Regions from separate parts of the Homo sapiens genome. Here all the other regions are linked to region 3. The links come from fine-mapping of genetic effects on gene expression. A gene starts in region 3. Each other region holds a variant in brackets. All regions are shown on one strand. Distances are between the middles of the regions. Region 1 overlaps PSEN1 (presenilin 1). Region 2 overlaps DCAF4 (DDB1 and CUL4 associated factor 4). Region 3 holds the start of DCAF4 (DDB1 and CUL4 associated factor 4).

Evidence for each region. PIP is the estimated chance that this variant, and not a neighbour inherited with it, causes the effect.
Region 1: its variant is the best candidate, but not a certain one, in a credible set for the expression of DCAF4 in whole blood (TOPMed, PIP 0.52).
Region 2: its variant is the best candidate, but not a certain one, in a credible set for the expression of DCAF4 in whole blood (INTERVAL, PIP 0.60).

Annotation. Positions count from the first base shown.
Region 1 is chr14:73,197,461-73,199,960 of GRCh38, forward strand. It overlaps PSEN1 (presenilin 1), which reads left to right. Exons shown (of 12, transcript NM_000021.4): 8 at 571-669. Among named protein-coding and RNA genes, the nearest start is that of PAPLN, 39 kb to the right of the region's middle. The variant G/T (reference allele first, on the strand shown) is at 1,288.
Region 2 is chr14:72,955,355-72,958,202 of GRCh38, forward strand. It overlaps DCAF4 (DDB1 and CUL4 associated factor 4), which reads left to right. Exons shown (of 14, transcript NM_015604.4): 12 at 169-342; 13 at 1,032-1,146. Among named protein-coding and RNA genes, the nearest start is that of TRC-GCA8-1, 6.2 kb to the right of the region's middle. The variant G/A (reference allele first, on the strand shown) is at 1,531.
Region 3 is chr14:72,925,052-72,927,709 of GRCh38, forward strand. DCAF4 (DDB1 and CUL4 associated factor 4) reads left to right here and starts at 1,413. Exons shown (of 14, transcript NM_015604.4): 1 at 1,413-1,492. RefSeq lists enhancers at 1-391, 792-891, 1,182-1,451, 2,123-2,658 and a silencer at 1,622-1,681.

The sequences.
Region 1 (2,500 bases), 270 kb after region 3:
ATTTAAATTTACTGCCCTCTTACTTCAAGTACTTCTCAGTAGTACGTAATACTGCTTTTAAAAAGGAGAAGGGATGAATTTCTTCTACTCTGCTCTTCATATTTTGAAAAGTTCAGTCAAATCCCCTTTATTAAATTCATCTCAGAGTAATCTTTTTAATTTGTAGTTCATATCCGTGATTAGTTTAGAAGTGACTTCTCCCTGTTTCTGCTCACTGTAGGTTGACAACTGCTTAAAATAGTCTATCTCATCATTATCTCTGCAGCTTTCCTTTAAACTAGGAAGACTTGTTCCTATACCCCAGTAACGATACACTGTACACTAAGCAAATAGCAGTCAAACCCAAATGAAATTTTTACAGATGTTCTGTGTCATTTTATTTTGTTTATGTTGTCTCCCCCACCCCCACCAGTTCACCTGCCATTTATTTCATATTCATTCAACGTCTTTTTGTGTAAAAAGAGACAAAAAACATTAAACTTTTTTCCTTCGTTAATTCCTCCCTACCACCCATTTACAAGTTTAGCCCATACATTTTATTAGATGTCTTTTATGTTTTTCTTTTTCTAGATTTAGTGGCTGTTTTGTGTCCGAAAGGTCCACTTCGTATGCTGGTTGAAACAGCTCAGGAGAGAAATGAAACGCTTTTTCCAGCTCTCATTTACTCCTGTAAGTATTTGAGAAGGATATTGAATTAGTAATCAGTGTAGAATTTATCGGAACTGAAGCACATGTAACTATGGTCATTTTCATGGTACTTGTTCTCATCTTAAATGCACAGCATTCCTGGAACTCCTGCAGATCTCTTTGTTTCCTTGCAAGCAATTGTCTTCTACCTGATGTTGATTCAAGAGAGTTTTCAATATGAATAGAAAGAAAGAAAATGTTTAGATATTGGGGAACCAGCATTCCCATTTTAAAACCTGTTAGGAGTTGTTGATTAGGGCAAGCTCAAGGATTCCTTTGAGTGACTGGTTTAGATGTCTTTCTGCTATTCGGTGACCACTGGGGAACTGAGATTGTTGAGCAGAAGGGTAATGTGAGCAGAGCCGTGCCTTTGTAAGCTGGCAGCACTGTGTGAGATGAATTGGTGGGTTGGATACTGAGATCATGAGAGGCATACTAAGCATAATTAAGATGATATTGCCATGATCTAGGTGGAAAGTAATGGGGGTTTGAATTATGGTAGTGGCAGTAGCAATCAAGGGAAAGAGTTGATCAGAGGATTCAGAGGTAGAATCAATAGTTCTAGCAACTGAGGAGAGAAGTTGTAAGCTTGAAGGAAAG[G/T]TGATGAAGAAAAAATGCTTTCCTGTGTTTTCTTGTTGTTGTTGTTGAGATAGGGTCTCACTCCCATCCAGGATGGAGTACAGTAGTGTGATCATGGCTCACTGCAGCCTCGACCTCCCAGGCTCAGGTGATCCACCCACCTCAGCCTCCCGAGTAGCTGTGACTACAGGCACGCACTACCAGGCCTGGCTAATTTTTTTGTGTTGTGTGTAGAGACTGGGTTTTGCCATGTGCCCAGGCTGGTCTTGAACTCCTCGGCTTAAGCGATCCTCCTGCCTTGACTTCACAAAGTGCTTGAGTTACAGGTGTGAGCTACCACGCCTGGCCATGTTTTCTTGTGTGAAGGATCTGTTTAGTTTTATATCTTTCTGTGGCTCATATCTAATTTAGTTGACAGTACCTGTGGGTCACTAGGTAGACATTGCTAGCAGACGTTTAGAAATGAAATACTAGAGCTTGGGAAAAAGTTGATATTTGAGATAGAGACTTGAAGAACATTAGCAGAGAGTTGGTAGTTAAGGTCTGTGAGCTGGTGAGCAATTCAAATAAAAGCAGAAGAGAAGAGGAAGACAAGGGTCAAACTTTGTCAACTACTGTGTTTAGAGAATGAGACAAGAGAGGATACTACAGGAAGTAGAGGAAAATAGTGGAAAATTGGGCAAGCCAGTATTTTTCACTTAAGAATATCATTACTGTTTTTTGATGTCAGCACATGAAATGGCTGCATAGTGTTCTCTTACGTAGATATTCAGTGGTGGGTATCCTCATTGATAGACATTTAGATCATTTCCATTTATTTTCTATCACAGACAGCACTTACAGAGTGCATCCATGAACTTATGAATATTATTATAAAATGTATTCTTACAGTAGAATTGCTAAGTCAAAGGATGTATTTAAATTTTGATAGTTTGCCATATTGCCTCCTAAAAAAGCTGTGCCTGTTTACATTCCCTTCAGTAATATGAAAGTATCAATTTCCTTACCCCTTTGGTGTTTTGGTTTGTTTTGTTTTGGAGACTGAGTCTCGCTCTGTCATGCAGGCTGGAGTGCAGTGGTGCGATCTCGGCTCACTGCAACCTCCGCCTCCTGGGTTCAAGCAGTTCTCCTGCCTCAGCCTCCGGAGTGGCTGGGATTACAGGCGTGTGCCACCACACCCAGCTAATTTTTTGTATTTTTAGTGGAGACACGGTTTCACCATGTTGACCAGGCT
Region 2 (2,848 bases), 30 kb after region 3:
ATCATCCTCCCTTCCAACTCCATTGAGACCCAAACCCTGACCAGCACGTGTCTAATCACACCGTCTGACCCAGAGGCTGGAAGAGGGGTTGTATCAGGAGGACCTGCCCTGCCCAGCCTCAGAGGGATGTCATGATAGCCAGGCACTGAGCAGTCCCTCTTTCCACAGGCTCCTCTGCTGTTTAATGGCTGCCGCTCTGGGGAAATCTTTGCCATTGATCTGCGTTGTGGAAATCAAGGCAAGGGATGGAAGGCCACCCGCCTGTTTCATGATTCAGCAGTGACCTCTGTGCGGATCCTCCAAGATGAGCAATACCTGATGGCTTCAGACATGGCTGGAAAGGTAGGGGATCATGGACTTTCTCAGGCCACAGGGTCTCGTGGCCCAGTGCCCTGCCAGGTGAAAGGGTTCTGCTGAAGAGGTCCTCACACCAAGACCCCAGGCAGGGGAATTTCGCTGAAGACCAAGTGATTTGTAGGCCCTGCATGGGGACTGCTTCGTTGACCATATGAGCCTAATCTGACGTAAACAAAAGTGAAAAGGATTCTCTGGTTATGTCCTTTTTTTTTTTTTTTTTTTTTTTTTTGAGATGGAGTCTTGCTCTGTCGCCCGGGCTGGAGTGCAGTGGTACTATCTTGGCTTACTGCAACCTCTGTCTCTCAGGTTCAAGCGATTCTCCTGCCTCAGCCTCCTGAGTAGCTGGGATTACAGGTACCCGCCACTGCGCCCGGCTAATTTTTGTATTTTTAGTAGAGATGGGGTTTCACCATGTTGGTCAGGCTGGTCTCGAACTCCTGACCTCATGATCTGCCCACCTTGGCCTCCCATAGTGCTGGGATTACAGGCATGAGCCACCGTGCCCGGCCTGGTTACATGCTTTTGATGAACAACAAGGCTCAAGAATTCGAGATGGAGATCTTCATGACCTGCACAGGCCACTGGAGACCACCTTGCCTTCCTGGCTTTGCACTTGGGGACCACCATGGTACCCCCTGGCCCCTCCCTGATGGCCCCTGGTGCTTTTTCCACAGATCAAGCTGTGGGACCTGAGGACCACGAAGTGCGTAAGGCAGTACGAAGGCCACGTGAATGAGTACGCCTACCTGCCCCTGCATGTGCACGAGGAAGAAGGAATCCTGGTGGCAGGTACTTGAGGAAGGAAGGGGAAGTTCCACCCCATCAAATACTGTCTCTCAGGGGCGATCCCAGCAACTTCAGCAGCAGAGGGAAAAGTTACCCCAAAACAGAACTGAATCAAGGGGAGTGTGGACAGCTGGGTGGGGAGACTAGGAGGGAAGTAGAATTAGATTATATTAGTAATCAGGAGTGTAAATAAATGTCCACCAGGTGGACAGCCTCATCCCATGTCAGTGGGCAAACGTCACTTCAGAAACAGGCAGGTGGGGAGGTCCTGGGGAGCCTGGGTTTGGAGTTTGAGTGGATTTCATCAGGCCAGCATTATTCCACCACGCAACTATCTTATCCAAAAACTTGGGCTCCCTGTTGTCTCTACTCACATTTCCACCAGAG[G/A]ATGCTGAGAAAAGAAGTTATGGTCATTGTAAAGATTCTTGGCCCCGGCCCGGCGCGGTGGCTCACGCCCGTAATCCCAACACTTTGGGAGGCCAAGGAGGGTGGATCACGAGGTCAGGAGATTGAGACCATCCTGGCCAACATGGTGAAACCCCATCTCTACTAAAATACAAAAATTAACTGGGCATGGTGGCACCTGCCTGTAATCTCTCAGCTACTCGGAAGTCAGAAGCAGGAGAATTGCTTGGACCAGGAAGTCGGAGGTTGCAGTGAGCCGATATCACGCCACTGCACTCCAGCCTGGCAACAGAGCGAGACTCCGTCTCAAAATAAATAAATAAATAAAAAAGATTTGTGGCCCCTTTACTACCATCCCTGTGGCTCCATGATCTGCAGATTAGGAGCAGCTATCTGGCCACTAAGCCCCCTGGAAGGGAGTTACCAGTTGATTACAGATGATGGTGGCTATAGCGTAATCAGACAGTGTGCAGGCTCAATGCTTTCACACTGAAATAGTAGCTGCTGACACTGCAGAATGTGTTCTCAGTCTTCAAGAATTGTCACCTCTACTGGTATTCCTATAGAAAGGGCTTATACCCCATGGAACATTTTTGTGGCTAGGAAGCATTACTTTGTTAGGACATTCATAGACTTATTTACTATTCTCATCAACACCAGGACTTCGCCTCCTTTTTAAGTCGATTTTTCACCTGTTTTTATCACAGAAGAGCTCTTGTGAGCTGGATGATAGAGAGAGCTCAGCCTTGCTGAGAGGCAGATGCAGGTAGTTACCAGCTGCAGTAATAAACTGCAGCCGGGATTCAGCTTCAGCCAAGATAGCACTTCTGGTCTTAGAGCCACACAAGTGATCAGAATCACAAATGTGAAATCCATGACTGCCCAAGGCCTGTCCTCTTCTCCTGCTGAAGGTCTCCAGTAGTGTATATCATGTTTCTGGGCTGCTGTAACCCATGCTGTTGTGTGTCACAGTCCTCAGAACTGGAGCCCTGAAGACTTAAACCGGTCCTAGGAACTGAAGCATTAAACCAGAAAGAGCTGTGGGGAGAGTTGTCAACCTAGCCCATCCCCAGGATGTAATGACTTTGACAGATCTTTTACTATAACATGAAAAGATCAGGCCAGGTGTGGTAGCTATAATTCCAGCACTTAGGGAGCTTGAGGCCAGGAGTTTAAGACCAGCTGGGGCAACACAGCAAGACCCTATCTCAAAAAAAAAAAAAATTAGGCATGGCGGCACACACTTGTAGTCCCAGTTAACTCAGGAGGCTGAGGCAGAAGGATGGCTTGGGCCCAGGAG
Region 3 (2,658 bases):
CAGGCGCCCGCCACCACGCCCGGCTAATTTTTTGTATTTTTAGTAGAGTTGGGGGTTTCGCCATGTTGGCCAGGCTGGTCTGGAACTCCTAGCCTCAAGTGATCCACCCGCCTCAACCTCCCAATGTGCTGGGATTTCAGGCGTGAGCCACTGCACCCGGCCTGACTACTCTTTCCCTGGCAATTGCTGCGTCACCAAGCCCCAACCCACCCTGCTGAGTTTTCCTTCCAAGACTCCCCTCCCATCCAGCCGGCTTGAACCGGCCTCCAGTCACGTTGTTTGTTCAGCTAGAATTTTTCTCTGCCTTCTCTTCAAGGCCGCTCAAGCTTCATGAAGCGGTTCTTTATTCTGACTATGCCCACTTCTCTCATTTCCCTCATCACCCGGCCCCGCTCCACATACTGCATTTATCTATAAACTCCTGAGAGCCAGGAGTTTAGCCTGAAATCCTAGCTTCCTGGTTAAGAGCTGAAATGCCTTCGCACGGCGTGCAATGGGTGAACCCCACCGCCTGCTTTCTAACGGGTCCAAGCCGCGGGCAGGGGCCTGTGTTACGGAGCCGCATGACACACCAGGCCTACTGCTGGACCCCAACAAGCCTAGCCTCTGTGAATCCAGCTGTCCTCACAAACTGTCTCTTCGGGACACAAGCCCATCAGAGGCTTCCGTTTTCCTTTCATAAGATCTCATAACCGTCAGCTGATACCTGGGACAGGCACAGCACACATAGGTCATTCTAGAAATATTGGTGGTCTGAACAAACTCTAAGCTGGAGAGGACATGAGAATGATAGATCCGATTCCTTCTCTCAACAGAAGAAATCAAGGCACAGAGAAGGGAAGAGACTCGCCCTAGGTCCCACAGCAAGCAGCAGTACTGGAGCCAACACGGAGGCCCCCCGGTTTCACGGTCAGGGCTCGCTACGCTACACCCTGAACGCAGACCCAGGGCAGCGGCCTCGGCCGCCTGAGGCCACTGCCGAAGACTTCGCCGCCAGTCGTAACATCACGTTACTTCTGTCCCTCGCCTCACAGACTCCTTCGCTCTTTCCACTACAGCGAGAGGACTTCTCCAGGGCCGCATCACCCTGCGGAGGGAGGAAGACACGGTCTCTCACGAAAGGGTCTCCAGACAGTTCCGCTGCTCCGGGAGCAGCCCCCGGCCCCGCCCCCGCGTGCGCCTGGCCCCACCCCCAAGCGCTCCATGACCAGCCTCCACGTGCATCCGCCCCAGACAGGCCAGGCCTGGGAGGAGCCGAAGCCCCACTCCCCGCCTTCTTCATGAGATCGTCCCTATTGACGTCGACAGACAGAAGCCGCGTCCAGTGAGAAGGAAAGAACGGCCGCTATAGCCCTATCGGCTGCTACAACACCAAAACGCATCCACCTAACTGGCTGACGCTACACCTTGGTCTTTCCGGGTCCTTGCACGCTTCGCTCCAACTCCTGCAGAGCTGAGCCGGAGGGGAATCCGGAAGGGACACGCTGAACAGGTAAGACTGTGCTGCCTGGGGTGCCTACTGGCATCGATTCGAGGGCTGCCGCGCTCCCGCTGCAGAGCTCGGGGTGGGAGACAGGCGCGGCGAGGAAGGCCAGGGAAAGGGGCGGGGAGGGGCGGGGAGGAGTGAGCACGTGGAACGCCGGCGCCACCGGGCCTAGGTGGCAGCTGGGCCGGCGCGCTCCGCCCGTTCTGGGGCGCGTGGGGCCCTCCGGCCGGATCAGTGCTGCAACCGTAAACACGCAGGGAGGGCACCCCGAGTGTCGCCGCTGAGGGCGTTTCTCTAAGCGCTTCTCTGAGACCTGCTGCTGAAGGCCCCACCCGACACCTGGCGGGGGCTGGGCTGCGGGCCTTGGGGCGGTGTCCCCTGTGAATGTTCAGGTCAGCATAACAGGTTAGGTGTGGTTGAAGCTTACGAAGTGGCCGGCTCTGTGCTGCCGGCTTCACAGGCGCTAACATTTGCCAGCGCTATGATGTCCTTGTCAGACGCAGAAAGGGGTGCAGTTTGGTTGTCCGTCGGGGTAGCGCACAACTAGCAAGTGATGGGGCCTGGGTTTGGCCCTCGCCTCCACTCTGAGTTGTGAGTTAGCGAGAAAGCCACGCCTCGTGGGCTCCCCGGGGGCTTCAGAAACCATGACGCCTTTCACCATGGTGTTCTACAGGCATTGTCTTGTGACTCCAGCAGCGCAGCCAGAAGCAAAGAAAACTGAGGGGACGGCTTCCTAGAGGAAACAATTCCAAAGTCCCAAACTCTGATTTTAAATAACGATGGAAATTAGAGTCGCGGTGGTGTTCTTTTTTTTTTTTTTTTTTTTTTTTTTTTGAGGCGGAGTCTCGCTGTCGCCCAGGCTGGAGTGCAGTGGCACGATCTCGACTCACTGCAGCCTCCGCCCCCGGGGTTCACGCCATTCTCCTGCCTCAGCTTCCCGCGTAGCTGGGGCTACAGGCGACCACCACCTCGCCCGGCTAATTTTTTGTATTTTTAGTAGAGACGGGGTTTCACCGTGTTAGCCAGGATGGTCTCGATCTCCTGACCTCGTGATCCGCCCGCCTCGGCCTCCCAAAGTGCTGGGATTACAGGCGTGAGCCACCGCGCCCGGCCTGAGGTGGTGTTCTGTGGGTAACCAGGCCTGGGGGTCCTACCAACAGAGGTGGAATCCC